Linked DNA regions of Homo sapiens. The protein of the gene in region 3 interacts with the protein of the main gene of each other region in a pairwise test. Each region holds a gene or a part of one and is shown on either strand. Other genes may lie near its edges.

Region 1 (4,647 bases), on a different chromosome or scaffold from region 3:
CTTATGTCCCAGATTCCAACCATTACTCCACAGACTAACAAGTACTCTAAATTCATGCCAAGAGCCTCAACCAATATGCATCTTTATAAAGGAATAAAACTTCTATAGGTTTACTTTATTACTGTGAGGCTGAGAGCTTCATAAATAGATATTTCAGGCTAACCATGAGAGCTCATCTATAACCTACCTATTGAGAAGGAATGGATAGGTGCATTCATATATATATATATATATATATGACTTTAAACTTCAGAAAACCATTTTTAACTTAGGTGTCTTTAAAATAAATTAGCTTCAAAACATAATGACTGTGATGTCATCATATCAGATCCAGAAATTAATAACTCAGCCAAGCCATCCATTCTTTGACTTGCACAATGACATTTTTCCCTGTGAGATTTCAGACAATCTCGTGTATTTGTAGTACTGTGACAAAGTTAAACAGAGTGAGCAGCCTGTGGACCTGTTTCAAGTGCCATCTCATCCCCTTGCCATAGTGGTGGGTATAAACCTCAGTCAGTCCGGCTCTCCCCAGCCTGAGAATGACAGTAGCGATGGTATCCTTGGCTCCTAAATAGAAAAGTATACAAAATAAAGACAGGTTGGTACACGGACAGAAAGGCAGGTGGATTAGAGACTTGGTATTTTAGAACTTAGTTTGTTGTCCCATAGCTTTGTCTCTTCCAATTTGGATTCTCAGTGGTGTGGCCCAAAGCATTCCTAGAAATGAACACATTTGGGAGAGATGAGTCATTGTGTTTTTCTGGGCTCTTGGGCCAGGGCTACTTTCAATTTGAACATTTTCATGAGTGGAGTTTCAAGATGTATTTATACAATTCTTACGATGGTGAGACAACGTAACACCTTTGACCTAGGACTAAAATGAACATGGTCCAAAAACGTCTTCATTGTCCACTTGACACCTACTGAAAGAGCAGGTGTCATCAAATTTACAGAAGGCATGATTACAGCAACCTTAATGTTGGCAGCATTTGGGATTCAACTTTATTATTCCAAAAAATTAATTTAATGCTTTTTAAGAACACTTACATTAGATGTACCTATATACCATCTAATTTCTCTATTCCAGGCACCAAAATAGGTAAAATTACCAAAGAAAAATATTGCCCTTCCTTGAGGAGTGAAATTACTTAGGTGTGTCCCCAGTTGTCCGATATAGTCCAGTATTCCTTCCTGTTAGGTGAAAGTTTTGAGCTCTGTGGACCTCAGCCTTCCCTGAACACTGTCAGTGTTTTATAAATTTCTGTTGGCCAGTGAGATCCCAGTGAAGACAAGCCCTGTTGAATGACTGTTGACAGGACTTTAGATGAAGTGACCACGCAGCCTCATGAAAATAAACTTAGGGGAATTTCCGAAAGTTCTCCTAACAGTTTCTCGTGGAAATCCCAGGGCTGTTTGTTTTGTTTTGGTTTTGCAACAAATGAAGGCTCAGAGCTACATTTCTTTCTTTGTAACACTGAGAGAATATTCTAATTTTTCATTTTTGAAGTTTTAACTTATAAACTTAATAAATATGTTTAGAGTACATTTAAATATAGAGGAGCTGTTACTCTAACTTCTGTGGATCTAACAGATGACCACCAAATGAGTGACTTGCTACAAATTTTTTTTAAAACATTACTGAGAAGATGTTAAACAAATCTGTGTCGGTAGGCATAAAAGGACTTTTTTCCTTTACTACAGGCATGTATAAAGGAAATAGAGAATATTTTGGTTTAAAAAAAATTTTTACACTAGCTGCAGGCTTTTTGAGTTTGTGGAACATGGAATGTTTGAACTTTTTAAAAAGAAAACTGTTTAAAAGGAATTGCAAAGATATTTAACTCTCCAAACTAATGATCTTTATAAAGTGTTTTTGTTTGAAGATTATTAAGGGAATAAAGATCAACTAAATTCATGTATGATAGCCTAAATTTTATTTTACAACCCTTTATTTTCATGTGGGCTTTATCTTTTTACATTATTCAAAAATCTGCTGGAGAGATATTAGTTTAGAACTATGCAATGTAGATTACCAGGGAAAGCCAGTCAATTAGGTTTTTTGCTTTAAAAACAAAACTTTGGAGGACAACAATTATTTCTAAAACTGTGCAGATGCTCCCATATCTTTAGAAAAAAATAAATGTAAGTAGGTTGTGTGTTATATTTGGGTGAGGTCATTTCCTGAGATGAAAAAAAATTAATAGTGTTGGTAGGTAGTAACACTCTAAACAAAAATTATCCAAATACCTCGTATCAGGCTTTTCTGCAATATTGCAGTGTAATTTTATTTTACTCTTTTACTGAATTCTGTGAAAAGGATTACATTTACAAAACCAAGTTGTTTTAAGATAGATAGGAGTCTAAAGTATTATCCTTTCAGAGACGCACAGGTAGGGGGATCACTTTGTTTATTAATTTTGATCACTCAGCATTATAGGAGGTCTGGTGGTCTAAAGCAGACTCTAGAAGCTGCCCCTGGAGATCTGTCTATAGATTCTCCATTGAGACTCAGGACCCACCCACCCATGGCTTCGTTCTTGCCCAGGAGGCTTGAGGAGAGAAGTTCTAGACAGGAAATGCAAGGGCAGAGGTCTTCAGGGCCTAGCAGTCCCTGTAAATAAGTAAAGTAATCTTGGTTGTAGAACCCAAAATCAAATTTATAAAAACAGTGTGTGGGACAAACAAGATGCACTGTGAGCTGAATTTAGTCCTTGGGTGCCAGGATGGAGAGCAGTCCATACTCCTTATTTTTGCTCAAACCCACAGTCCACAGGCTGTGCCTGAATCTAAAACTAAAAATATAGACTGTGTTTGATAGAAGCAGAAACATAAATGGAAGCAATCTTTTGGGGCAAAAAACATGATCTAGGTAAAAAAAAAAAAAAAATTCAATACGTAATTTTAATCTGGATAGAGACCCCATAAGCATAAGAATGGTGAAATAAAAGCCTCCTTTCTATGACCTTTAAGAAGAATTTTCTTGAAAAGAAAACTCCTTGGGAGTTTTTATTTGCACTGGTAAAATTTCAGACATCTTATAAAAGCCCTATTGTGCACATATTCCCTCTTGAGTGGTCTGGAGATATGCTGGGCATGGTTGGAGCCCAGTCATGGTGTAGGTGGAAGAGGGTAACCGGAGGGCTTGAGTCCCCCTTCTAGTTCTGACCCTGCCTCCAACTAACTCATAACTTTGGATAGGTCACTTTAGCTCTCTGGACTTCATTTCCCTCATCCGTGTGGTCTGAGGTCTTTTTCAGGCCTATGAATCTATAATCTCAATGTTAGTAGGCCTCTGGAATTTTATTGGCTATTGAAAACTTGATGGTCCTGAAGATTCTCTGAGTATTCTTCAAGGTCAGGTTAATTTCTTCCCACTCAGCTGGGTGGCAGAGTGAAAAGAGAGTGGAGGACAAACATAAGTGGGATAATGATAGCAGAAGCAGATTTTATCTTAGCCAGAGAGTCCAAATTAAAGTCAAGTTTTTATCCTCAGAGAGTCACTGCTATAAGCTCTGGTCCCAGATTGCTTTTCCACACCTATACATTAGAGAAGCTTAAGAAACCAAATGCTGCATTTAACCTTGGCCTCCCACGTACCATCTTGCATGGCAGGACGCAGGATAATCTTTTCCTTTTCTTGTTCTATTGCACATTTTAATAAATAACAGAGGGAGAGAGAGATCAGTAGGAATTGGACAGTGAAAACTATCTGTGCTTATATGAGGAATGAGGGGCACGGTCACCTCCTCGGAGGTGAAGTTGCTTGAGAGCGTGAAATGTATTCTCAACCATGTGCATTTGCTAATGGAAAGGTCTAGTTACCACTCAGGCACAGCAGAGTAAAACTGCATCGGAATCCCACCTCTGTTGCGCAGTGGGCATTGCCTTCTGGTCTTCCCATTTGAGATATTTTCCCACTGGCAAACTTAGTACTAAGTTCCAAAGTGCATACATAATGGGAGAAGGTGGTACATTATCACTTTTTAAAATAAAGAGCCCAAAGCCTTGGGAAGGAGCTAGACCTACGGGACTTTCAAGTTCTCTAAAGCAAATGGTCTCCAATCATGGGTCTGCCCTATGGAAAAGACCCAGTGTCCTAGGCCAAACCCCCTCCCCCCCCAGCAATTAGTCTTAATCGGTTTACCACAATATTACTCAAGGCTCTGTGGGACTAGGTTTGTTTTTTCATCTATAAAAGGGAGGGGGTAAAATTAAATACTTTCTAGAACTCCTTCAGTTCCATTGGAGTTTTATGTTACAAACCCCTAAAACTGTGTAGAGTTGGGTGACTCTGTGGGTGTATTCATATAACTCCTTTGTGTGGCTACTGTAAATATAGAACTCAGACATCTCTCTACCTACACAGGGCTAAATCACTACGCAGAATTCTCCTAGCCAGGACTGAGATGATGGTGAGGCTTGGAAGCACTCATCTCAGATGCAGAATTTAAGGGTGTACTCAAAAATTCAGATAATGTTTGAATGAAATATTTTCAAAAATCAAAATGAACGCCAAAAGTCTATGAACAACAAAATTTCAAATTTTTAAATGCAGGATCAGTAACAGTATTGAGCCATATTGGAGTCTGAGGCAAAAGAAAAAAATCAGTCATATGAACATTTAGTGATCATGAATTTTTGGCA
Region 2 (3,841 bases), on a different chromosome or scaffold from region 3:
CCTGTACTCCATCTTGGCCTGAAGGTTTTTGTGTGATAAAAACAGCATATTTTTATGTTAATTAGAGAATTTCAGAAGACAGGAAAAACTGAAATGTGGGAAAGGTGAGGACTATTGGAGTATGTCTTTCCGAGGTGTGAGAAGACAGCTTGGATCCAGTGGAGAGGTTAGCCTTAGGCAGAAGCAGACAGTTGATCTAAAGTTCAGAGGAAAGAAGGAAGCCGTATATAGACATATAGACACACTTTTTTTTCCTAAATATGTATTTGTTGTGAATAATGGTGTGATATAGATGGGGAGAGGTATATAGATAGAACATTTATATAGGTGTATAGAGAATAAAAAATGTTACTGGGATGTTATTAGGATTATGGATTCGCATGACTTTTTGGGTGATTTTTATTTCTAAACTTTTCCTATTATATTACCTTCATAAGAAAATATGTAAAGAAATATTTTAAGAATTTAGATAAACTAGATGGAGATTTTGTTTTGCTCAGCTGTTCTCAGCACCTTGTCACATTACTCATTTGCTTAAAACCTCTAATGGTCTCTCATTACAAAGAAAAAGTTATAGTTCTATCAATGGCTAACCAGGTCCTCCATGATCCAGCTTCTCCCTGCCACCCTCACCACATTTGTCTTTGGCCTCACCTAATTCCCCCCATGTTCATTCTGCTCTAGCCGTACGGGCCTCTTTGGTTTCTTGCACAAATGAGGCATTGCTCTTACATCAGCTTGCTTTGCAGTTGGTGTTTTCATGCCTGGAACACTCTCCAGTCTCATGGCTTGCTTCCTTATACTATCTTTTCTCCAATGTCACTTTCTCAGTGAAAACCTTCCCTGGCCAGCCTATCTAAATTGCACTATCTTTCCTTCTTGACATTTTGTATCCCTTTCCTATTTTCTCCCTAACCACTTCTCATCATATGACATACAATATGCTTTCTTAAAAAACTGTTTCTCATTTACTTTTGGTTTTCCACTGCCACGTGTAGTTTTTCACACACGCAAGCAACAGATGTAAATCCCATAACAGTGCCTGACCCAGAGTAGGCATTTAAATGTGTTGAATAAAAGCTTGCAAAATGTTTTCCTCAATTTTGAAAGACATCTCTTTGAAAACTCCATCTTAGGAGATGTGATTAATAGAGGTGCCAGGTGACATAGAGCGCTGCTACATTTCTGGCCATAGAAAAGAGCCCACAGGGTGAGGCTGCTCAGGTCTGTGTGTGCTCATTCACGTCTTGAGTCCACAGGCCTGAGAATGAAACAAAGAGCCAGAGAACCATGGAGTTGGGATGGAGGTCATTGGAAGGGCTCCAAGGGTTGTATACAGGGAATGCTTGAGGGGAATCCCCCAAGAACAATGGTAGGAGATGGGTACAGCTCTCAGCAGTGTAACCCTTAAAGTCCCAGGTTAATGAGTCTAGAGGAAGAATAAGAAGAGAACTGCCAAAGAGGCAATTGTGTAAAAAGCTGTTCATCCACATTCCCAACATCAATGTTGTTACTATTGGAATGTAAAGTGTATGTGTGTGGGGTGTGTGTTATAGGGAGAATGGAGTAACAAATGGCAAAAGTTGACACAGGCCAAATCATGGAAGGCCATGCTAATTTTATTAACTTATATAGTGCATAAAGTCTAGAATTTAAAATTACAAAGGTTTTCTACAAATCAATAAGAAAATACAAATAACCTATATTAATCAGAACAGAAACTCAATTCAATTATCTTAAACAAGAAAGGGACTTTATTGGCTCACAAAACTTTAAAGTCCGGAGGTAGGGCAGGCTTTAGGCACAGCTGGATCTAGGGCCTCCAGAAAAATGACATCAGAACTTAGTTCTCTTTCCATTTCTGCTAGCATCCGAGTTTCTCCTCAGACAGACTCTCTCCACATGGCACAAATTCAGGCTTACATGGTCCTTGGTTCCTGGGATCTCCATAAAGCCTTCTTTCCAGTAGTTCCAGCAGAAGTTCTGTTAAGGGCTTTCCTTAGCCTGGCTTAAGTTATATACCCATTCTTTTATCACTGTGGCTAGGAAGCTGTGGGACTCAGGAGGCCAGGCCTGGTCACATGCTCACCTAAGCCACAGGGAATAGGTTCCCCACAAATAAATAAAGGTTGTGTTACCAGAAGATGGGGAAGGAGATGCTGAACAAATAAAAACAATATATCCACACATAACCCAATAGAAAGCAGGTAAGGGATACAAACAATCCACAGTAAACTATAAATGGCCAATAAACATGAAAATAACCCCAATCTCACCATTTTTTTTTATAATCAGGGAAATGCAAAATAAGAAAAGGTTCTTTTTCGCCCAACAGATAAAAACTATCAAGTGTAGGTATGGTTATATGGGGAAATGAACATTCTCCATACACTTGGTGAAAATACAGTTATGAAGGCCTTTGGGAAGACTGAAGGTGGACAGAGAACAAACCCTTTGATCCAAAAATCCACCTTACTGGACTCCAGACTAAAGAAATATTCACACACATGCACAAAGACATCTGAATAGGATGTTTACTTTGGCAATGTAATAGCGAGAGGAAAAAAATTAAGGGAATAAATAATGGCATTTTCATAGTATTTAATCATATTCAACCATTAAAGAAATTTAAAGACCTGTTATCTTTTTTTGAGACCAAAATTTTAAAAAGCTACAGAATATGAGATCCTATTTATGTAAAAAGTGTTTTTATGTGTATGTATATTCGTACGGAAAGGTGACTAGAGGATGTATGTTAAACTGTGGTAAGTGGAATGTGATTGGTAGCATTGGAGAAAAGGGTCTCTCTATTCAAAGAACTGTGTTTTTTATACAATGAGAAGGTAGTCATTAGACTTTCATAATTAAAAAAAGGAAAATGGGCAAAAGCAATTCATAATAGGAAATGCAAATGGCCAAGAAACATGAAAAGATGTTCCTCCTCATTAATATTCAAAGAAAAGAAAGAAATTTTGCCTACCAGATTGGCAAAAATTTTTAAGGATTCAGGGTTGGCAGACTATAGGCAAACAGGCATTCTTACTAATGATGGAGTTGTAAATTGGTGAAATCTTTTTGGTAGTAGTTTTCAAAACTGCAAATGTGAAACCTGATCCAATAAATTTCTAGTTATTCATCCTACAGAAATACCCACACAAGTAGCAAAATACATGTACAGGAATGTTAATTACACTTCTATCTATAATGAACCTAATTATCAATCCATAGGGGATTAAATAAATTACAGAATATTCATGCAATGGAATAGTATATAGTTATGAAAAAAGAACATCTTCAATGTGGGGGGAGAGGAGGCAAGTCTCAGTGTAGTGCATGTGAAATGGGGTTATGTCCTACTTTATACGGTAGCTGAGGATTAAGAGTTAATCCATGATAAAGCACTTCAAATAGTGCCTGTCACAGCAACCACAGGTGTCAGCTGTTAACACATTATTGATTAAATAAGTATATGCCTAAATCTGGAAGAACAAACGAAATTATCATGACTTCTCGGTAACACTGTGAAAGGAAATATCCTTTTTCATTTTACATTTCTGCACTGTAAAAAATTCAAACCAGCAATGTTTAATAGCTTTCACATTTGTTAACCATAAACACAAATTTATCAAGGTTTAATAGCCACCACCCATGGCATGGTGAATATGTCCCTGGAGTCTACAGAACCAGATTTGAATTTTATCTCTAGGCCACATGCAAGTCACATGATCTCTGAATCTTGCTTTCCTAGTCCACAAATCTAAGTGAGATAGGTACGGTGTCTAAGCCAATGCCTAGCATGCAGATTATTTCAGTACATGTAACCCTCCCTTCAATTTACATG
Region 3 (4,098 bases):
AAAAATCAACTATATTTGTGTGGGTCTATTTTTCGGCTATTCTGTTCCATCAATACATGTCTATCCTTTTGCTAATACGTTACTGCATCTTTATATTGAGTCCAAATCAGGTAGTGACTCCTCCAATTTCTTCCTATTACAGAATTGTTACAGCATAATTTGCCTTCCCATATAAATTTTACTACTTTAGAGAGGTCTATGTTGCCCAGGCTGGCCTGGAACCCCTGGGCTCCACTGATGTTCCCATTTTATCCTCCTGAATAGCTGGGACTATAGGTGAATGCCAACACACCCAGCATTCCACGTTATTTTATAGAATCAGCTTGTGGGTATTTACAAAAAAGCCTATTGGGATTGACTGGAAATGCATTGACCCTCTGGACCAAATTGGTGAAACTCAAGATTTATTCTTCCAGTCCATGAACCATGGCATCTCCATTTATCTAGGTCTGATTTTTCTGTCAGTTTATTTTGTAGCTCCAGCATATAGGTATTGCAGTTGTTTGCCCCTTGGTATCCATGGGGGTTGGTTCCAGGATTCCACCCTCCCTTGCAAATACCCAAACCCTCAGATGCTCAAGTCCCTTATATAAAATGATGTAGTGTTTGCGTATAATCTCTGGACATCATCTTGCACACTTTGTCATTTCCAGATTACTCGTATCTAGTGCAATAAGTGCTACGTAGATAGTTGTTATACTGTAGTTCAGAGAACAAGAAAAATCTGTACATACTCAGTACAGACCCAACCATTGTAGGCCTAACACTTTTGGTCTGCAGTTGACTAAATGTGCAGACGTAAAACCCAGATACAGGGGACTGACTCTATTTTCTTAGTTATACTTAAGCATTTCTTTGGGTAGAGAGGTAGTGAGAGTGATGTGCTCAACTTTAAGTGTCTGCTTTTCCCAACTTTTATTTCCCAATCTTTTATTTCATCAGTGGTTTGTAGTTCTCAGCATATGAATTCCATTCATACTGTTAAGATGTAGTATGCCTTGGTTTTGGGGGTATGTTCAGCTTTACATTTGAGAACAATTGTAGGAGGTGGTAATTACTGATGTATTTGGACATATTATGGACCACATCTCCCCTCTTCCCAACCGATTATCTTGGTTCTCCATTTAGGCTGTGAAATCTGACAGCATGGTGGAACAGTATCTACAACAGATGAAGGGGCTCTGAATTCAACTGGGCTTCACAGGAATGATGGGTTGAGAAATGTCTGTTTCACAGTATGAATTACCTGAGCAAAATGCTCAGATTCCTATGCACACAGCTGCTACTAAGGACATACCACACACACATTTGGAGTTCCAGTGGGCTTTTATTGAGATAAATTAACAAAAACCAAGATTTTACCATATTTTTGGAACCTTATAAACTCAGCAGACTCCGGTCCATATATGCGTACATACAACATAACACATCCCAACAAAAACAGAGCCCCCCCCCCCCCCACTGGAACATCTGCCAATTAAGAGAAAGCCAATTTTCCCTTCCCCCAATGTTTCTGAAATTTTGAGTTCCCACTGTTCACTTCTCAGTGGAACTGGTCCCTTGTGGCTAGGGACATTGGAATTCTCTACCATTTTTACTGAACAAAAAATAATTTTTTTTCCTGTTTCAAAAAAGGGAATAGTGACTTTGTTTTCTCCAGGCTCCCCTTCCCACACAACCAATGTAAAATACAGCAGCCTGTATCTTAATAACCCAGCCCTACCCCCTCCCTTACCCAGCATTGTCTACTGGAGAATTTAAATACACTTCTGTTGGAATCTGTCAGCTGTGGATGGGCAGAGTCCAGGTGCCAGGCTAGCTCCCTCTGACCTCATGAACTGTGACAACCTTTGGACACTTAACTCTTTACCCCAAAGATGAGTTTTTAGATCAGAAAGGAGAGCAGATTTTCTTTGGGAGTTTTAAAAAACTATCTTTAGATTTAGAGATACAAAGTACAACTACAATCTCACAGAAGTCCACTAAAGTTCACCAAAAAGCTGACTTACTTCAGCTCTCATGAGGCCAATAATTTTGATAAAGGTATCTGGCAGGAAAATGATTCCACAATAACAAATTTAAAGATACCTAGAACATTGAAAAAAATAGCAAATTAAAATAAATGGCTTAATTTCCAAGAACTTATTTCATTTTTTTGTTACTCATCTAGAAGGTCAGGAGTGTGGCTAAAGGCAGTTTCTGATGAGGTTATGAGCTTCCAAAGTGTTTCTAAATCCTTAGTGCAGACACCCTCCCTTCTGGGGCAAAGTACCCTCCCTCCCACCCCTATTAAAAAAAAAAATTAAAAAATTAAACCACGTCATCAGAATGAGATGTTTTGATTCCAACAATTTATACTCAAGGCTTTGTGCTGAGTTGTCGTTTGAACCAAGCATGATGTTATCAAGCACAAAGCACGTGGCAAAGGAAAGATGCTCCCATCTCATTCTGAAAACAAATACTGATAACCAAGCCCACCCTCCAACCCTTTGGGGCCAACCCATTTTATGCTGCTGGGACCAACTTCAAACAATTTAGAGGTATATTTAGGTTTCCCTCTCTCTTACTTCTGTGAAAGATCATTTTAGAATAAATGTATTCCATTCCTATGGGAGAGGCAAAACAGTATTTATCCCCATCAGAATATATGGGGAAAGAAAAAACATAGGCCTAGAGGTGGTAAGGTGTGTAACAGTCCATAGCCCATTACACAACTGTACAACCAAAGGCTAAATGATGAGTTGGATGTAGTTTTAATATTAAAAATAGAGGGTAGTTCTCATCCAAATGAGCCACTGGAAAATATTATCATTACTTAAAAAAATACATATTTAATATTGGAAAGAATGTGAAAACAACTTCCAATAGTAACAATGCTTATTATGAGGGCCCAAAAAAGAAAGAAAAAAAAAAAAAAAAAAAAAAAGACCAGGCTTTGACCTAGTCCTCAGAGCATCTTTCCATTTAACAATTCCTATTCAAGAGTCAAGCACCAAAACTGGACAGCTGCCTCTACAAGACCGTGTCCAGTAGTGGTGTCCCAGATAGTTTAAGTGCCACTCCTCATTAGAGGCTATACTTCAGTAATACTTTCCATTTTAAGTCTGTGCTTTAAGAGGGACCCACAGGCATGTGGCACCACGCAGTCTAAAGTTGGTGAAGGAGACTGCACTTTTTGTTTAGTCACCCACACGTTCTCTAGCGAGATACAGAATTGCATTTATACTCTTTTCTTCTACATGAATGATCCCTCTTATCTCGCAAGAGGTGGGGGAGAAAGAGAGCTGCATCGGTACAAGGGCACAATTTTTTTGGTCAAAAGTTGACACCTTTTAAATTCCCTCTCCCACCCCTCCCTGGAAAAAAGTTACTTCCTTAATTAGGTTTTCTATTTAGTAACCAACATTGACTGGACAGAAAATATGAGGCTTGGGTTCCAAATAGATGAGCTTGTTCTTTTTTGGGTTTGTACCGTGCAGTTCTTGCTACAGTTGTTAAGGAGTTAGGGCTATGTCCCATCAGGAGGCATCTGTAGGATTTTGATCTCCAAGGAATTGTGGGTGAGTCGCAAATAGTTTGCTCAGAAGTAGGCAGAGTCAAAAAAGCAACTTCAAGTAATTGATTCCTTTGTCCAAAAGAGTTAAAACATTAAAGTATATGCGGGACTTATTTTGTAATATTTTAGGGTTTTGAAAAATAAAATATGGAAATCAATTTTTTTTAATTTTGTTTTTTGCTTTTTTCCCCCCCTTTCCAGATGCCTCCTGATTGACCTAGTACACTGGGTTAAAAGGGAATTAAAAACATTAAAAAAAAAAGTTCACTGGTTTTGATTCATCTCACTCCTTTTGCCTGGAGATCAGGCCAAACATCAAGCATGTTGGGAGGGGCACAATTTAAAGCAACACTATTGACTGTAAAGCATCTGCCAGCAATTTACAGTGCAAAATGACAGGTAACAATTCTTGTCACAATGCAAGAGAATGGCAAGCAGCTTTCTGTAGCATGAAAGTTAACAGCTCTCAGGTTGCCCATTCCTGCAAAAGTTTATGTATCAAAGCGGGCAGAGGGCAACACATTTACACACTACAGGAAATG
Region 4 (4,243 bases), on a different chromosome or scaffold from region 3:
GGGAGAAAGGGACAGGGTCCCAGGGAGCAAGGGGTGGGGTTTGCCGGGGAAGAAAGGGACAGGGTTCCTGGGAGCAAGGGGTGGGGTTTGCCGGGGGAAGAAAGGGACAGGGTTCCTGGGAGAAAGGGAGGGGCTGGGGGAGAACCACAGGTTTTCCACTCCTAGCTCCTCTTGGAGGAGACCCACACCTGACTTCACAGGAGACGGCTCCCTTGTTCACAGGGAGTGCTCTGGGGGCCAACACCGCCCTGCAGAGCTCAGCCCAATGGGTGGCAGACACTCACCACTGTCACAGTCATGGTGGCTGGCGTGTCCCCAGCCAGGCACAGCAGTAAGGGCCTTCTGGGAAGTGGCTTTTTCAGCAGGAGGGAAACCCCCACTATTTCCTTTATTCAGAGCTTCAGCGCCCACATGGGGTGGGGCTGAGGTTCAGTGCAGGGTGCTGTGGCTGTCTGCACCTCCCAGGTGGGATCAGACACTGCGAGGCAGGTTAGAAAGCCTGTGGTCTGTCCACACAGTGACCCAGAGAGCTAACAGGACCACTGAGCACGCGTCCCTCCCTGCAGCTCCCTGGTCCTCCAGCCACGGTGCCATCAGCCTGGGCCCCCACCCAGGATCACTGACGACCACTCCAATCTCACCCCTTTCCCCGCCAGGCTTCCCGGTGCCTCCCAGGCACTCACTTGATGGAAGCCTGTGCACTGTTCATGACCACCCGGAGGTTCTGCAGGGCCACGTCGGCGTTCTGCTTCACCACGGTCAGGCTGGCACCCTGGCCGCACCGCAGGGCTTCATTCTCTCGCTGGAAGTTGGAGACCTGCGCCTGGGGGGACGGTTACGGCTAAGGACAGAGCAGCTCCGAGGCAACCCGGCTGAAAGTCACCACCTGGCGAGGCGAGGGCTTACCCGTGGGGGCCTGGCACTCAAGATGCATGCTCTGGCCTAACTGGGGGCTCGCCTCTGGGACTGGGGGCCTAATGGCTTCCCCTTCACTCCAGTATATGCTCAGCACCTAGCTCTATGGCAATAGGGACTCCTACAAGTGGATGCCCCGTGCCAGACCCCAAACTCCCAACAGAGCTCCAGGGCCTCCCTCTGCTTCACGCCCTGACAGGAAGCGGCTGCTGTCCTCATTTGAAGTCCTTTCTCTGCTTGGGCTCAGGGGAAACCCCAGCAGAGTCTTTCGCCTCTTTCTTACTGAATTCATTATGTGACTCCACAAATCAAAGAAAAACACTGAAGTCCCTTCCTTTAATTACCTGGAGCAAACTGATTTCCTGTTTTAGTTTCACGACGTGGTTTTCTGCCTTTACAGCCCGTTTCTGTTACCCAAAAAAGAAAAACCACAAAAAGCATCACTGATGTCCTCACATTCATACCGGACACGGGCCCCAACCCAGGGAGCAGGAGGGCACCCAACCTGGCTGTGGCCCTTCACAGCCCCTGTGCCCCTCCCAGTCCCGCCTCCACTCTCAGACCACCCCTGGGAAGGGCTCATCGTGCAGTGTCTGTGCTCTGGCCCCCCACTCCCCACGGATGCCCTCGTGGGCCAGCTATCCCCAGGCACAGCGAGACAGCGACGTCAAAGAACACCAGTCCCAGAGAGCCACATGGCCCCGCTCCCAAGGGCAGGCTGCACCGGCTGCTGAGGACAACAGCACTTTCTCAGGAGCGCTCCTGCCCCACCCAGCTCGTCCGATTCAGAGAAGAAACCCATACGGTCATCAGCTCCAGGTTCTGCTCCACCTGCTGAACCACCGACTCCAGGTCGTGGTAGTCGCTTTCCTCCTTGATCATTTTTGCTTCTAACTTCCGCTCAAGCGTCCTCACCCTTGTTAAAGAAAAACCCGAGTTGTTAATTTCTGTGGCTACTTTTAAGAGGACTACAAAAAGATACCTCATGAGCCAGATAAAACCCGCTAAGAGCCTGTGATGGAATGGGTCTCAGGCACAGAGGGGAGGCAGCGGCAGCCTCAGGCCTGGACCTGTAGCCACCAGGCAGGCGTGCAGGGAGCGGCTCTCACAGCACTGCTGCTCCAACAAGGTGTTTGGTGGCTTTTTGCCTAAAGTTTAAAATAAACCTTGGCCAGGCGCCGTGGCTCATGCCTATAATCCCAACACTTTAGGAGCCTGAGGCAGGAGGATTCCTTGAGCCGAGGAGTTTGAGACAAGCCTGGGCAACATAGTGAGACCCTGTCTCTACAAAAATAAGATTTAAAAATTAGCCAGGTGCAGTGGCAAACGCCTGTGGTCCCAGCTACTCAGGAGGCTGAGATGGGAGGATTGCTGGAGCCAAGGAGGTCAAGGCTGCAGTGAGCCGTGATTGCGCCACTGCACCCGAGCCTGGGTGACACGGCAAGACTGTCTCAAAATAAACTTTTAGGCAGAACACAGAAATGTGTTTGATGCTGAACATTTATATACAATAAAACCCAGATCTGGTTTGACTCTGATTACTTCATTATCATTTAAAAACGGATTTCCCTGTGTATTAGATGTTGTGGATTGCATTCCTAACTAAAAGCTTACATACATTTCTGTTTGAGCTTCAGAGAAGCTCTGAACCTCATTCAGCTTTCTTCTCAGCTTAGAATTTTCATCTTTCAGCTGTGGAGAGAGAACATCCTTATTAGAAAGTCAGCATGTCTGGCTCAAAAGGGCGTGTGCTTCTGCGGTGTGGCTCCAGAGCCTCCTGATAAGCAGAGATGCTGGGTCAGTGCAGCATCCACCTGCAGCCACTACAGAGGGAGACCACAGACGGAGGCAGGCACTTTTCAAAGACCTGTGGTCACAGATGCCAGTTAATTTTACTCAGAGGCCGGGGGCAGTGGCTCGCGCCTGTAATCCCAGCACTTTGGGAGGCCGAGGTGGGCGGATCACAAGGTCAGGAGTTTGAGACCAGCCTGGCCAACACGGTGAAACCCCCGTCTCTACTAAAAATACAAAAATTAGCCAGCAGTGGTGGCGGGCACCTGTAGTCCTAACTACTCGGGTGGCTGAAGCAGGAGAATCACTTGAACTCGGGAGGCGGAGGTTGCAGTGAGCCGAGATCGTGCCACTCCACTCCAGCATGAGCAACAGAGTGAGACACTGTCTCAGGAAGAAAATAATTTTTCTTTTTTTTGAAACAGAGTTTCGCCCGTCGCCTAGGCTGGAGTACAGTGGCGTGACCTCGGCTCACCGCAACCTCCGCCTCCCGGGTTCAAGCGATTCTCCTGCCTCAGCCTCCCAAGTAGCTGGGACTACAGGCGCCTGCCGCCACGCCCAGCTAATTTTTGTATTTTCAGTAGAGACAGGGTTTCACCATGTTGGCCAGGCTGGTCTCAAACTGCTGACCTCAGGTGATCCACCCACCTCGGCCTCCCAAAGTGCTGAGATTACAGGCGTGAGCCACGGCGCCCAGCTAAAAAATTTTTTTTTTTATTCAGAGCTTATAACCTTTTAGGTGATTATAATTTTTTAAAAATTTTCCTCCTCTTGGAATACTTAGCAAGCTGGCGACTGCAGCCTGCCTTTACTGAGGGTACAGCCCTGTAAGTGCCCAACTGCATCCAATTCACAGCTTCTAGCTCACCAGTCCTCTTTAGCCGGTTCTATTCCCACGTGTAACCAGAAGCAAAGTCAAAGGGAAAGTGGATAGCAGGCTGTCACGCAAATCGCCTTGTCCTGGAAATCAAACCAGGCCACCCAAGAGGTAGGATGGCTCCAGGTTCTCCCCGGGAGAAGCCGCTCGGACAGGCGCTGTGCCAGAGGGCGCCGTGAGGCTCACTTACTGCGTCGTAACTTATCTGCAGCGTCCGCAGGTGCCTGTCTCCCAGAGACTCTCCATGAACCGCAAAGTCTGCGCTAGGACTCCCTGCCGGAGAGGCCGGAGACACGCGAGAATCAGTGTCACTCAACGCCCACGAGGGCAGAGACTCAGGCCCTGCCAGCTCCGACGGGGTGGAGAAAAAGGAAAGGTATGTGCTGCAGGGCGACGTGCCGGCAGGGACCCTCTCGGGGTGAGTCTGCTCGATGGCGGACGGCAGGTAGGCCCCACTCCATCCGGTGTCCTCATCCTCCTCCTCATCCAGGAGGTCACCAGCCCCTGTCGGATCCTCGAAAAATGGCTGCTGATACTCCAGGCCATACCCGCCGGTTTGGGAGGGTGGGGAGTTGTGGTCAAGTCCCAGGGAATGCCTCGAGGCTTCCTAAAAAAAAAAAAAAAAAAAAAACAATGGAGGCCATGCTTCTGACTCGGAGC
Region 5 (4,647 bases), on a different chromosome or scaffold from region 3:
ACTTGAGCTCAGGAGTTTTGAGACAAACCTGGCCAACATGGTGAAACCTGTCTCTACAAAAAATTGTAGAGCACTCCAGCCTGGGCAACAGAGTGAGACTCTGTCTCAAAAACAAACAAACAATCAATCAAACAAAAAATGACCCAAGCAAGCCTTTTCAATAAAAAGAAAGTCATATATTTCTGCACACTAGCTTTTATTAACATCCCTTCACTGAAAGGTATTTTCATTTGGCTTCCATGAGTATTTTTTCTCCTTTCTAAAAGCTCTTTATCTGGCTCATCTTCCTGACACTCAGTAAAAACAGATATTCATCAGGATTATGTTCCTGGCTCTCTTCTTTTAAAATATTCTTAAAACTCCTTTGCAATCTCACACCCTTGGTTTTAATTATCCAGTATCACCTCCAGAAAAATAACTGTCTGTATTCCAGTTCATTTTTTTTTTTCATGGAGTTTCACTCGTTGCCCAGGCTGGAGTGCAATGGCACGATCTCGGCTCACTGCAACCTCCGACTCCCAGGTTTAAGCCATTCTCCTGCCTCAGCTTCCCAGGTAGCTGGGATTACAGGCACCTGCCACAATGGCCGGCTAATTTTTTGTATTTTTAGTAGAGACAGGGTTTCACCATGTTGGCTAGGCTGGTCTCGAACTCCTGACCTCAGGTGATCCACCCGCCTCAGCCTCCCCAAGTGTTGAGATTACAGGCGTGAGCCACTGCGCCCAGCCCCAGTTCTTAATTTTTAGCTGTCTACTGGTCCTTTCTAATTTGATGTCACACTGTTATGCCCAACTCAAGATGTTTAAATCCAAAACTTGCTTTTTCTTTCTACTATTTTCCCCGCCCTCATTATTGCCAGCATTTTATCACCTAAATTTGAAATTCAGATCATCTCATTTGTATTGTTTTTACACAGAAAACTAGTTTTACACAGAAATCTTACTATTTAGTTTGCATTTTTCCCAATGATACTGATTATTTTCAAAAACACGATTTTACTTGTCTATAAAATATACCATTGCATGGTTACACTGTAATTTATTCAGCTATAACTGTATTGTTGAATATTTTTAAACATCTGCTTGTTTTCTCTTTGGAATATACTCCTCAAAGTGAAATTACAAGTTTAAAGGATATAGATATTTTTAAACTACTACAAAATTGTCCTTCAAAAAGGTTAAACCAACTTACATATCTACCTACAGAATCAGAACCTGTCTGTTTCACTGGGCCTTTGCAAACAACACTTAACATTTAAGTAAAACTTTATATAAAGCATACTTGGCGCACACATAAAAGGCAACTGTTTCATAACCTGAAGATAGTCTTTTAAGCTGAGGATCCAGACTTTCAGGAAGTATATCTGGCTCTTAGGAAAGAAGAAGCCTAAATAATCTGGGCTCCATGTCCCTACACCAGTAGAAGAGCTCTATTTCTCTGTTATTTACACAGAGGTTCTGCCTTGGACTTTGATTGAAAAATGAGTTATCTTGCCTTAAAACTACATCAAAATCAGAGTTCTAAATCATTGATTTGATGTATATAATACTATTGTTTAAGAAGGTAGAAAAATATTTGGCATATATTTTTGAATATACTGACTATACTTTAGAAAGCATTCCAACAAAAATGGTTTTTAAAATGTAGCTTTTAAAGGCAAATACTTAGTTGTCCAAAATGACTCTATCCCCGAGAGTTTAAAAAAGCCCATATTTGACTATACAAATCTCCATTTTATTATAGTAACACAAATGTAATTTCTATTTAACAAATAACCTTTGCACAGAAAACAGTGCTGCCAACTGGCATACATTTTTAAGCTACTGAACATCAAAGAATGAGTAAGTCACCTTTTTCTACGTTCAATTTAGATATAGTTCCACTTGGAAGTAAGGGAATTCATGAAGCCTGACCAAAAAAAGTCCATTCATAAAGAAGATAACCGTATTTCATATGGATCAAACTGTCAGGCAAAATCTGAGTAGCAAGTCACAAAAAACCTTCTTGCAGGCATTTTTACTTTGTTTTTGCACAAATCACCTTTGAACGGTAATTTAAAAACTAATTTGGTTGACATAAATGTCATTTTTATGGTATACAATGAAAAACACAGAAATACACCATGTTCCACACATAGCTGAAATACTTAAATGAAAATCCAAGAGTTCTTTTAGAGAACCACAGAAAAAAAGGAAATTATCATTGTTATTATTTTACCTGTGGGCTGCAGAAGTGAAGCAGGTGGGCGAGGCTGTAAGCCCCACAAATTTTCTATACTGCTCCGGTCCTTAAGGTCCAACAAATGTATTAAAATTAATGGATCAATGTCTAGTAAACTACTGGTAGCAGCGGAGCATAAATGTGTTCTTCTTGATATTCTACTACTGGAACCCACATAACCATGGCTACTACCTGCAAAAGAGGCGTAGAAAATGATATATATATGCACAAACTTAGCTATACTTAAATGAAAAAATGAACTGGTTAACATTATATGAATACTTGTCTATGGACCTATCTCTTAGGAGTTCAGGTTCATGATAAGAAGCAGAAAGAAGGAACCAGGGCCGGGCGCGGTGGCTCACGCCTGTAATCCCAGCACTTTGGGAGGCCGAGGCGGGTGGATCATGAGGTCAGGAGATCGAGACCATCCTGGCTAACAAGGTGAAACCCCGTCTCTACTAAAAATACAAAAAATTAGCCGGGCGCGGTGGCGGGCGCCTGTAGTCCCAGCTACTCGGGAGGCTGAGGCAGGAGAATGGCGTGAACCCGGGAAGCGGAGCTTGCAGTGAGCCGAGATTGCGCCACTGCAGTCCGCAGTCCGGCCTGGGCGACAGAGCGAGACTCCGTCTCAAAAAAAAAAAAAAAAAAAAAAGAAAGAAGGAACCAGACAGTTGTACATTAGCACAGTGATTGAGTGGTGGCCTCATTAGTACTTAGAATTCAGAAGCAAGCCTCAACCCCATCCTGAGCCCTAGAAAAAAACAGATGACAATGTGTACGATGTGCACAATTGGGGGGATGAGAGGTAAGGGTAAGGAGAAGGAGATTATATCCCATGACCACCTGGTTTTAGATAAAAGAAGACAAATTCCCATAGTATAACAGATTACAAAGAATTAGACACCAAAATAGAAATCTCCCCCAAGTCTCTGGACAGTAAAATGTATAGGTCATGACAGTTTGGTAGACTTTTTCTACTTTGATTAAATAATGGGGTACAATTTGAAGTTTTTGGACTGTCATGTTAATGACTGATGCACATTACAGACATCTGTAGGCAGATATTATGCCTATACCCCTATATTGGACTATGCTCTTTAAGCCAAGAAAAGCATCTGACTTTTCTCTAGCACCTAGTATAATGCATAACAAATACCAGATATGGAAATGTTGCTTAAAACTGACCTTCTTCAATAAAGCTGTTTAAATATATTTTAAAGAGATAGAACATTTTAAAACAATGCTACACGCAGGAAAGTAGATAATATAAAATATTAAAAAGTCAGGTTCCAACTACCCATGAGTATTTCAGAGAGATCCAGCAGGATATAACTTAGGAGGAAAGTTCCATTGTTCAGAAGCTTCAAGCCAATTAATAATTTATGCTTTTCACATCCTCATGTTCTCACTGTCTCCCACTTCTGCCTCCTCTTCTAAGGATTATTATCTCACTGACAGTTTTTCTTCCCAGCCTCTGTATTACTGCAATTCCTATTAAATAACAGAAAACGATTTCCCCTTCACATTGAAAACTGTTCTTTGTTGTGTTTTGAGACACAGTCTCACTGTTGCCCAGGCTGGAGTGCAGCGGCCCGATCTCCACTCACGGCAACCTCCGCCTCCTGGGTTCAAGCGATTCTCCTGCCTCAGCCTCCCGTAGTGGGGACTACAGGCATGCACCACCACACCTGTATTTTCAGTAGATACGGGGTTTCACCGTGTTAGGATGGTCTGGATCTCCTAACCTAGTGATCCGCCCGCCTCAGCCTCCCAAAGTGCTGGGATTACAGGTGTGAGCCACCGCACCCAGCTGAAAACTGTTTTTACCTCTTTTCTTTTACTAAGGAATTCCCAAATTGGGTTGTATGTCAGTCAGCTGAAGGAGTTTTTAAAATTACATCCTAGATACACTGAACAAGAATACTGGGGTGAGAAGCTGGGTGCAGTGGCTCACGCCTGTTATCCCAGCACTTTGGGAGGCCAAGGTGTGCAGATCACCTGAGGTCAAGAGTTAGAGACCAGCCTTGCCAACATGGTGAAACCAAAATACAAAAGAATAGCCAGGTGTGGTGGCAGGCACCTGTAATCCCAGCTACTCGGGAGGCTGAGGCAGGAGAATTGCTTGAACCTGGGAGGCAGAGGTTACAGTGAGCCAAGATCACACCACTGCACTCTAGTCTGGTTGACAGAGTGAGACTCCATCTCAAAAAAAAAAAAAGGATACGGAGGTGAGATCCAGGACTTTTTCCCAAAAAGCTACTCAGATCGTTCTTATGTATAGTTAAGTCCAGTAGCCCAGTGAATGGAATCTATTGCCCTAATATCTGATTCTCCTTTAAAAATGTAAGTTGCTCATTCTTCCATGTTAAAGGCACTTACAGTAGAGAAAGCGGTGTCTCCTGTTTCTCACTGCTTTTTCAGGCC
Region 6 (4,647 bases), on a different chromosome or scaffold from region 3:
GTTATTAGACCACCAAAGGGGCATATTTACATGTTGGATGAATTCATTTTACAATTTAGAAAAAATGAATTAAAGACATTAGTCAGAAATATTTTTATAGATATCCCAAAAAGTTATTTTGCTTCTATCAGCACTTAAATCTTGAGGTTTAGTATTATTATATATGTACATATAACATTAATCCATATTTTTATTAGTCTGAAAGCTTTCAGTAAAGAATTGCTTTTAAGGTAAAAATACTTCATAGAAATTCAGGAAACTATGAAGATTCTGAGGGAGTCCTTTCCTAAACATTCTGATTATAAACCCTTAAATTTAGCCAAAGTCTACTTGATAATCATATAAACACAAGACTCTAAATTTCAACTATATCAAAAGCACAGTTCAGTACAGAGACTAGAACTAGGTTACCCTTAAATGAACTTTTTTCATTTTCAAAGGCCTTCCCATAACCATCAAACAATAATTTGCTTTGAAGATCCATCATACAAAGTTTACCCAAGGGATGTAATTTAAAAGGAAACTTACTTTCCATTTTAATTTTTATAATTTAAAAAAGGAGGGTCTTCCTTTTCATAAAGAATATTTGGTTCTCTTTTAAAGCCCTACTCTGCCATTTTAGTACTAATGTCAATTACAACCAAGTTCAATTGGTAGCGTTATTATGCTATCTATTGTATAAGAAAGGAAACCGGTACTGAGAGGATTTAACATGGCATTCATAACACAGCTTGATCTCTGTCAGGTCTGAAGACTGAAAAAAAGCAAGTTCTTTCATTCTAAATTAATTTCCCATCTTAGACTGCTAGGGTAGCAGTCAGAAGAGAAAAGTATTATTAATATAAGCTAGAAGTTGAAAGATATTTCAGAATAACAGTTTTTTTGGGAAAAAAGCTGATCAGTTTCAAATAGAAATGCTTAAGAGAACACATACATGTCTAATCACAAATGGAGGTTTATCTGTTTCTTTTTTGAACTCATAGGGTCCCAGATTTAAATGGGCCAGCCGCCGCCTGGTGTCTTCAGATAGCTCACACATGCGTCTTTTTGTGTAGGGAGATGGAGAGTGTGATTTTGAAGAAATTGTAGGCTGTTCGTAGTTTTTTGCATTTATACAGTATTTACTTCTCTCAGGTGACTTGGATTTTTTCTTTTGTGATCTTGATGTTCTGTTTTGCAGTCTGCCATGTGATTTTTCAACTGGAGCCAAATGGTAAATAAATTTATCCTAAACATAAAAAATAAAAATTAACTTGGTCAAAGGGGATTTTTAAAATTCCTGTTGGTGGGGAAAAAATTAAAAAGTAATTTAAATAAGACGCAAAATCTATCAAAGCCAACTAGATCAGTCCTTCCTATCTGTGCTGATCCTGGGATAAGTCAAATCCACATTCTCCTAGATAACTCTTTCTGCAGTAGTTATTAAAGTACACTGTCTCAAACTTCCTTAAGTCCAACAAGGACTTTATAAAAATTAAAGCCCGATACTTAATCACTTGAAAAATTAAAGAAACAAAGTCAAAAAAATTATTTTTCAGTATACTAAAAAAGTGCAAACATTGGTTACATATATATTTAAATATTCGTGTAATTGGCTATATAAGAGAACTATGTTTAGTAATGTTAAAAATACATGCCAGATTAGTTGATTACAAAATCTTTAAAGATAAAACTATAAAAATAAGTTTCATCCCTTCTGCTATAATTATATATATATCTGTACAACACAAAAATATAAAGAACTCTATACATATTTTAATGAAATGTGTTATTTGGATTGTAATACACACTTTTAAGCTCCCTTCCGAGCTGTAACTTCACAATGACAGATAAACATACCATCTTAATTCTGGTCCCATATTTTTATAAAATTAGGAATATAAAAAGCATTATAAACTTAGTAACATTTTATCTAATAAAACTGGTTAGCAGTCTAAAAGTTTTGAGGCTAAAATTTAATAATTCTAACTTTTTTATTATTAGAATAACATCTTATTCAAATAATCTCTGCCTTATAAAGGCCTTAATAGTTGGATTACAAGCAAGTAATATAATATTTCTTCCTACTTTATCCAGAGTTATAAGAAGCTTTTCAATTCAAGAAAATGGACTGCGGAGAATTTTTAAATGTCTTCCTAACTTTAATCACTTTTAAAAGCCACCAATCCTACCTCCAGCTCTATTTCCTCAACACCTCTCTTGACTTGCTAAGGGTAACTAAGTGAATAAAATACAAATGTGAATAGGATGAAGAAGAGTCAAATTTTTTAAGTGGATACACAGAAAAGAAAATTAATTTTCCTAATTGGAAAAGTGAGTTTCAGCTAGGGCAATGGTCTATGCATTTCATACAGACCAGTTGCATCAGATTACTCCATCTTTCCTTCTTCTGTAGTTCATGGTATGCTTCTGGACCTTCTCCACCTTGTTCAATGATTTCAAAAAGTAATTCAGAATTTTTCTACCATATCCATTTCACCCATCTCTGTGACATCACAGACTTACAGAAGCAAAGAATGTCAGCACTAGAAATGATCTTTGAGTTTACTAAAACATTCAAGCAATGAATCTTTCTAAGACCTTGGAATCATGAGTTTCTGTCTTTCAGTTTTAATTATCTAATTCTACTCCATCTTGGATTTAATAAATATGCAGATCCCTTGCATTCCAATTCTGAAAATCCCTTGCTGACCAAAACCTCTTTTCCTCAACCTACTTCTTGACTCACTGAATCTGTTACTTGCCCTTCTCATCTCCTCAGTCCCTAGAACTCTTCCCCCAAGTTCTTTACACATTTTTAATATCTCTTACCTCCAGACCCAACTAAACTCATAATCATCCATTTCAGCAATGCTGTAAAGTTCTTTCTTATATATATACCTCTGATTATATCAAACCTTAATTAACCTCATCTTTATTAAAGCTTTTAATACTGCATACTACTAGAGAAAGTTATAAATTACATACTATCTACTACAAATGCATGCTGTCTAACCCTACTTATTCCTTAATGGATCCTGTTCATGCCTAGTAAAACTTTTAAAAAGTGACTGTGTTATACCATTTATAAAATGGACTGACCATGTGACTTGCTTTGGACAACAGGAAAATAGCACATGCAGCACAAGGAGAGACACTTCAAAAGTGCTTATCCTCTCTTATTCCTAAAACCTTCCTGCCATCACATGAATGAGCTGGAATTCTTAGCCTGATAGATGATGGGACTATCTCATCCCAGCTGAAATGAAGCTCATCACTAGAAATTTAAGATCCTTCCCTGGGCAAAACATCTGCCACTGTTCAACATGTGAGTAAAGCCATCCTAAACCATTCATCCCTAGCCAACCATTCTAGACTAAAGAAATCAACCAGCAGATCCACAGAACTGTGAGAAACACTTGCTGTTTTAAGTCACTAAGTTAATGAGGTCTGTAATACAACCAAAGCTATGTGATACAGCAGATTAACAAATTTATATTCATAAAGTTACTACTGATATTTAACTATTTAATAATGAATTCCACTTTGCAATAGGTAAAAACATTTTAATAATGTTACATGCTAGGCATATTGCATATATTCCCTAATCTTTACAGCAGCCTTATGAGGAACTCGAACCCAGATCTGTCTGTTTCTAGAAAGAATATTTAAAGAAAATGTATTTCCTTAAATACTGACACCAATGCCTTTTCTCTCATATCTCTGTTCAATAAAGATCCCAAGTCAAAAAGTAAAAATAAAAATAAAAATAAAATGGAAGACTCTTGTTAAAAGTTTACAGAGGGAAATGTTAGTTCATAAGTACAATTAAACTATGAATGGGTAATGGTTTTACATTTAGAAATGGCTTTCACCAAGCTGTACCCTGAGAATGTATGTACTTTTCTATGTGTATGCTATATTTCAGACAAAAAGTTAAAAAGAAAAAAAAGACTTCTCTATCCATCTATTGGAAGAACATACTCCAGCGTGAAGAAAAAAAAACTGTCTGAGTCCAGGCAAAGCATATCTAACCATTTACAATGTGCACAGTGCACATCTCTAAAACAAGTCAATAACATAGCTCTGCATTTGGCAAGCATAGGTTTTTAGAGCTCTAAAAGCTGTGTTTCAGCTTGCATCTAAAAGATAAATAACTACAGCCTGACTCTGAATTATTAAATATCTTTCTAAATAAAATAAGAATGTTCCCCTCAATAATTCTATATTTTACCTTTCTTGGCTTAAGTCACAGTTATCATCTTCAGCAAATTTACTTGAATACTGATAATGCAGTAAATGAACAATCCACTCCTTCCACGATAAGCCCAGTCCTGCCCTTTGAGCCCTCTGGGCTTTACATATTATTGGCTCTTCATCACAGATAGGTCACTGTTACCCTATCACAATGCAACTGCACATGAATGATATCTGGACATTATTAGATAACCTGTGGACAAAGAAGTAAGCCACCCTGGTGACTCAGTAATAAGTCAGACTAGGCCAGGCAGATAAGTGCACACCTGTAATCCCAGAATTTTGGGAGGCTGAGGTGGGCAGATTGCTTGAGCTCCAGAGTTCGAGACCAGCCTGGGCAACATGGCAAATTCTATCTCAAAAAAATACAAAAGTTAGCCGCGTATTGTGGCATGTACCTGTAGTCTCAAC
Region 7 (4,647 bases), on a different chromosome or scaffold from region 3:
CCAACATGTAATCAATGTAAAAAATTATTGGCCCGGCGCAGTGGCTCACGCCTGTAATCCCAGCACTTTGGGAGGCTGAGCCAGGTGGAACATTTGAGGTTAGGAGTTCGAAACCAGCCGGCCAACATGGTGAAACCCTGTCTCTACTAAAAATACAAAAATTGCCTGGGCGTGGAGGCACACAGCTATAATCCCAGCTACTCGGGTGGCTCAGGCATGAGAATCACGTGAACCCAGGAGGCGGAAGTTGCAATGACCCGAGATAGTGCCACTGCACTCCAGCCTGGGCAACAGAGCAAGACTCTGGCTCAAAAAAAAAAAAAACAAAAATAAAAAAAAAATAAAATTTAGGTGTTTCACATTTTTTTTTAATTCTAAGGCTTTGAAACCCAATTTGTATTTTACATTTAAAGCATGTCTCAATTCAGACTAGTACATTTCAGCTCCATGGCTGGTGGCTACTATATTAGAAAGCAGATTTGTCTAAAGCAAAGGCATAGCTCAAATCATTTCTCTGGGAACCTCCCAATTTATTCCTCATAATTCTCCTCATATTAGTAACAATTCAAAATTAGTAATAATGTGGCAAAACATTTGTACTTCAAAAAATATTGCACCATAATGGTTAAAGAAATTGGTTCTGTGGTGTCAAACTTTAGAGTCTGAATCTTGAATCAGCATCTAACTTTACAGACCTGGATTCACTTAGCCTCAGTATTCTCAAATAGTGGAGTTATCTACTTCACTGTGGTTGAAAGGATTAAATGGGAAATTCGAGTAAGGCACCTACAAAGTCTGGTAAGTAGTCTGGGTACTCAATGAAAATTAGTTACAGTTGCTAGAGGTAGATGGGACTGCCATCAACAGAAACTAGCAAAGATTTCACAACTTATAAATAGGTTAAAGGAAATACAACTGCTTCATACTGCATATGAAAAAACCAAGGTGTTTACCTGGATGATCCTGCCAGTTAAAAACTATTACAAGAATTAGGGGTCAATCATGGAATGAATGCATATTGCTCTTCCCACTACAAAAAAGCTAATTTGACAACCTTAAACACTGTGATAGAGAACTTATCCAGAGTGATAATCCAGCAAAGTATCTGCCCTTTTCCTCCTAATGAAAATGTAAGCTCACTATCCTAAAAGTTACTTTGAAAAATCCCTAATGCTGGCCAGACTCAGTGGTTCATGCCTGTAATCCCAGCACTCTGGGAGGCCCAGATGGGAGTATTGCTTGAGACCAGGAGTTTGAGACCAGCCTGATCTAAATAGCAAGACCCCATCTCTACTAAAAAATAAAAATTAAAAAAATAAAACCAACCTCACAGAGTTCTTGGGAAAAGAAAATCAGGAAATACATATAGAAGCTTAATACATAATCTAGTAAAGAACAGGCTCTCATCTTAAACTATTATCTTACAGAAGGCACACAAATATCTGACATAGAAAATAACAGGTACATAAAAGTAAAAATACGGAAAAATAATGTTTTCTGGAAGTATTTAAAGCCAGGGCCTTGACAGTATCTCTCTAGATAGGTAAGATGTGCTTTTCTGCTTTCATATTTTTCGTAATTATGTGTTGCTCTTCTAATACAAAACACAAAACTTTACAAGAAATATATGCATTTAAATTGACTTTTTTTTTTTTTTTTTTTTTTGGAGACAGAGTCTCACTCTGTCACCCAGGCTGGAGTGCAATGGCATGATCTCGGCTCACTGCAACCTCTGCCTCCCCGGTTCAAGCGATTCTCCCACCTCAGCTTCCCAAGTAGCTGGGACTACAGGCGCGTGCCACCACACCTGGCTAATTTTTGTATTTTTAGTAGAGACGGGGTTTCTCTATGTTGGCCAGGCTGGTCTCGAACTCCTGACCTCGTGATCCACGCACCTCAGCCCCACAAAGTGCTGGGATTACAGGCATGAGCCACGGCGCCCGGCCTAAGTTGACTTTTTAATAACTGTGATCACCATCAGCAAGATAGAGTAGAAAATCCCAGCCTTCCTTCCCCTCCACGTTTTGCAACTATCTGTGAATGAAAATAAAAGCTGTTGTGATCATTTATTTTGACATCCAGTTAAATCTTCATTACTTAGCATTTTAATGAAAATTATCTTTTTAAATATGCAAAACAACCATTTTAAATTATCTGGAACTATGTATTTTTAAATTAACAGGGTGGCCTAATATTAAGACAATTATCGTTTTTTCAATTACAAATCTCCACAATGAAACCAACTAACAAGATTCTGTACTAACCTTGAAAAGTCAGCATACCCTCTGAACGCAACTTTTTACTATAATTCTATTGGTCATCATTATTAATATATCTATGCATAATTTAGATTACGCTCAAATTCCACTTAATATTAAATCAAGCTAAACAGGGAATTATAGAAATATAGTACTTTGAGATTTGTTTTGTAGACAGTTACACGGTGGAAGCAGACAGCTCTAAAAGTAATTAACTCTGGCCAGGCGCGGTGGCTCACGCCTGTATTCCCAGCACCTTGGGACGCCGAGGCGGACAGATGGAGGCCATCCTGGAGATCGAGAACATCCTGGCCAACATGGTGAAACTCCGTCTCTACTAAAAATACAAAAAATTAGCTGGGCGTGGTGGTGCGTCCCTGAAATACCAGCTACTCAGGAGGCTGAGGCAGGAGAATCGCTTGAACCACTGAGTCAGAGGTTGCAGCCAGCCAAGATTGCACCACTGCACTCCAGCCTGGTGACAGAGCAAGACTCCGTCTCAAGAAAACAAAAAAATGTAACTCTACCTTCTGCAGAAAGTGACTGAAATCTCAGAGCTTACAGGTTCCCTTCGAACATCATGGAAACTTTCCTATGAGCCAGAAACTGAGTGACTTACTTCCAACTTCTATTTAAAATTATACTCATGGTCGGGCGTGGTGGCTCACACCTGTAATCCCAGCACTTTGGGAGGCCGAGGAGGGCGATCATTTGACGTCAGGAGTTCGAGGCCAGCCTGGCCTACACAGTAAAACCCCGTCTCTACTAAAAATACAAAAATTAGCCGGCCATGTTAGCACATGCCTGTTGTCCCAGCTACCTGGGAGGCTGAGGCAGGAGAATCACTTGAACCTGGGAGGTGGAGGTTGCAGTGAGCCGAGATCGCACCACTGCGCTCCCACCACTGTGCTCCCACCCGGGCAAAAGAGCAAGATTCTGTCTCAAAAAATAAAAATAAAATGAAATTATACTCAGCCCAAGGCCATACAAATTGCAATGCTATTACAAAGACTAATATATATTTATACATCAGTTAAAAAGCACTTTAATGATGCAAATGAGCCGGAGGTTTCTGTGGGGTAATGGAACGTTCTGAAGGAAGACTGTGGCGGTGGTTACACAACTCTGTAAATACACTGTCATTCAACTGTACACTTAAAAAAGGTTGTTTTATAGAATATACATTCTACCTCATTAAAACTTTCTTTTTCAAGACACCTTAAATGTCCAGTAGTATAAAACCTAAGATGCTACTTTAGGTATGAGAAGTACAAAAGTACAAAGCCTATAATGTTATTTTATATAACAGCATAGCCCACCAACAAATGCTTAATTAACATCTTCCCATTCTCTCTCATCCCCGCAGATTTATAGGGCTACGAACATGCACAAATCAAGTTTCTAATATCTCTAACTATAGAGCCACTGTTAAATGCAGAACAATGTATTTAGCATGCCACCATTTGTGTACATACTATTTTTTAAAGGCTACCCTAATTTTAGGTAAAATATTCAGATCTTCAGCGTTTCACTGGTTCCAATTAATTTGTGAAATGAAGTTTCAGTTCTACTACAAAAACTTTAATCAAAGTCTACAGAGTACTGCCTCAAGGCATGATAACTGACTTTGAAACTCATCAATGGCAATTCACACTTACGGCCAAATGTGTGTCTTCTGCCTATACGGGGTAAGAGGAGGGGAAAAAAGGGAAATTCAGATCACCTGTACATTGAAAAACCACCAAAAAAAACCAAAGAAATACACTAAAATGTTAACAGCTCTCATCTCAAGGCAACTTCTAGTTTTTGCTGAGTTCCAAAATTACCTCAGTGACCATGTATTATCTTCTAAATTGGAAAAAAACTAATTAAAATTAAATTGCTTCTACGCTAAATGGAAGCCGGACTCAAAACACTACACAATATAGTGTACGATTCTATATACGTAACGTTCTGAATAAGAAAAACTATGGGGACAGAAAACACTCTAGAAGCTGGGGTTGAGGAATGGTTGACTGAAAAGGGCATGACGGAAATTTGGGGGCTATGAATCTTGATAAATGCTGACACCACCACAGTTAAAGTGACAGTTAATCTTGATAATTGTCAGCATTTATCAAGATTCATAACCGTACACCAAAAAAGGCTTATTTTACTGTATGTAAATTAACATTAACTTTTACATTCTAATGAATAAAAAGCAATAAACTTCTGTGCAATAAGCCAATGGTTTTCAAGTCAGCAGTTTAATAGGATAAAAATATACTGGGGATCACAGAACTACTTCAAGCCCCTCATGTTAGACAGAGAGATTTGTTCAGGGGTCCATTGTTAGATAATGGTAAGGTGAAGTACAGACCTAGAATTCTCATCTGTTTACTTCAAATCC

Evidence for each region.
Region 1: the proteins of DDX6 (region 3) and POU6F2 interact in binary tests that used the Homo sapiens proteins (3 or more experiments, as listed by UniProt).
Region 2: the proteins of DDX6 (region 3) and ZNF24 interact in binary tests that used the Homo sapiens proteins (3 or more experiments, as listed by UniProt).
Region 4: the proteins of DDX6 (region 3) and ENTR1 interact in binary tests that used the Homo sapiens proteins (3 or more experiments, as listed by UniProt).
Region 5: the proteins of DDX6 (region 3) and TRIM37 interact in binary tests that used the Homo sapiens proteins (3 or more experiments, as listed by UniProt).
Region 6: the proteins of DDX6 (region 3) and SPATA6 interact in binary tests that used the Homo sapiens proteins (3 or more experiments, as listed by UniProt).
Region 7: the proteins of DDX6 (region 3) and FXR1 interact in binary tests that used the Homo sapiens proteins (3 or more experiments, as listed by UniProt).

The regions. Positions count from the first base shown.
Region 1 is NC_000007.14:39,340,537-39,345,183, forward strand, and holds part of POU6F2 (POU domain, class 6, transcription factor 2), read left to right. Parts: intron 1-4,647. UniProt on the Homo sapiens protein: Probable transcription factor likely to be involved in early steps in the differentiation of amacrine and ganglion cells. Recognizes and binds to the DNA sequence 5'-ATGCAAAT-3'. Isoform 1 does not bind DNA.
Region 2 is NC_000018.10:35,330,629-35,334,469, forward strand, and holds the end of ZNF24 (zinc finger protein 24), read right to left. Parts: 3' UTR 1,599-3,841; downstream 1-1,598. UniProt on the Homo sapiens protein: Transcription factor required for myelination of differentiated oligodendrocytes. Required for the conversion of oligodendrocytes from the premyelinating to the myelinating state.
Region 3 is NC_000011.10:118,746,456-118,750,553, forward strand, and holds the end of DDX6 (probable ATP-dependent RNA helicase DDX6), read right to left. Parts: 3' UTR 1,308-4,098; downstream 1-1,307.
Region 4 is NC_000009.12:136,403,372-136,407,614, forward strand, and holds part of ENTR1 (endosome-associated-trafficking regulator 1), read right to left. Parts: intron 4,191-4,243; coding exon 3,774-4,190; exon of another isoform or gene 3,575-3,773; intron 2,608-3,574; coding exon 2,534-2,607; exon of another isoform or gene 2,398-2,533; intron 1,832-2,397; coding exon 1,720-1,831; intron 1,323-1,719; coding exon 1,260-1,322; intron 824-1,259; coding exon 684-823; intron 1-683. UniProt on the Homo sapiens protein: Endosome-associated protein that plays a role in membrane receptor sorting, cytokinesis and ciliogenesis. Involved in the endosome-to-plasma membrane trafficking and recycling of SNX27-retromer-dependent cargo proteins, such as GLUT1.
Region 5 is NC_000017.11:59,029,679-59,034,325, forward strand, and holds part of TRIM37 (E3 ubiquitin-protein ligase TRIM37), read right to left. Parts: intron 2,413-4,647; coding exon 2,218-2,412; intron 1-2,217. UniProt on the Homo sapiens protein: E3 ubiquitin-protein ligase required to prevent centriole reduplication. Probably acts by ubiquitinating positive regulators of centriole reduplication.
Region 6 is NC_000001.11:48,398,417-48,403,063, forward strand, and holds part of SPATA6 (spermatogenesis-associated protein 6 isoform 1 precursor), read right to left. Parts: intron 4,323-4,647; exon of another isoform or gene 4,214-4,322; intron 1,229-4,213; coding exon 935-1,228; intron 1-934. UniProt on the Homo sapiens protein: Required for formation of the sperm connecting piece during spermiogenesis. Sperm connecting piece is essential for linking the developing flagellum to the head during late spermiogenesis.
Region 7 is NC_000003.12:180,914,966-180,919,612, reverse strand, and holds part of FXR1 (RNA-binding protein FXR1), read right to left. Parts: exon of another isoform or gene 4,618-4,647; intron 1-4,617. UniProt on the Homo sapiens protein: mRNA-binding protein that acts as a regulator of mRNAs translation and/or stability, and which is required for various processes, such as neurogenesis, muscle development and spermatogenesis.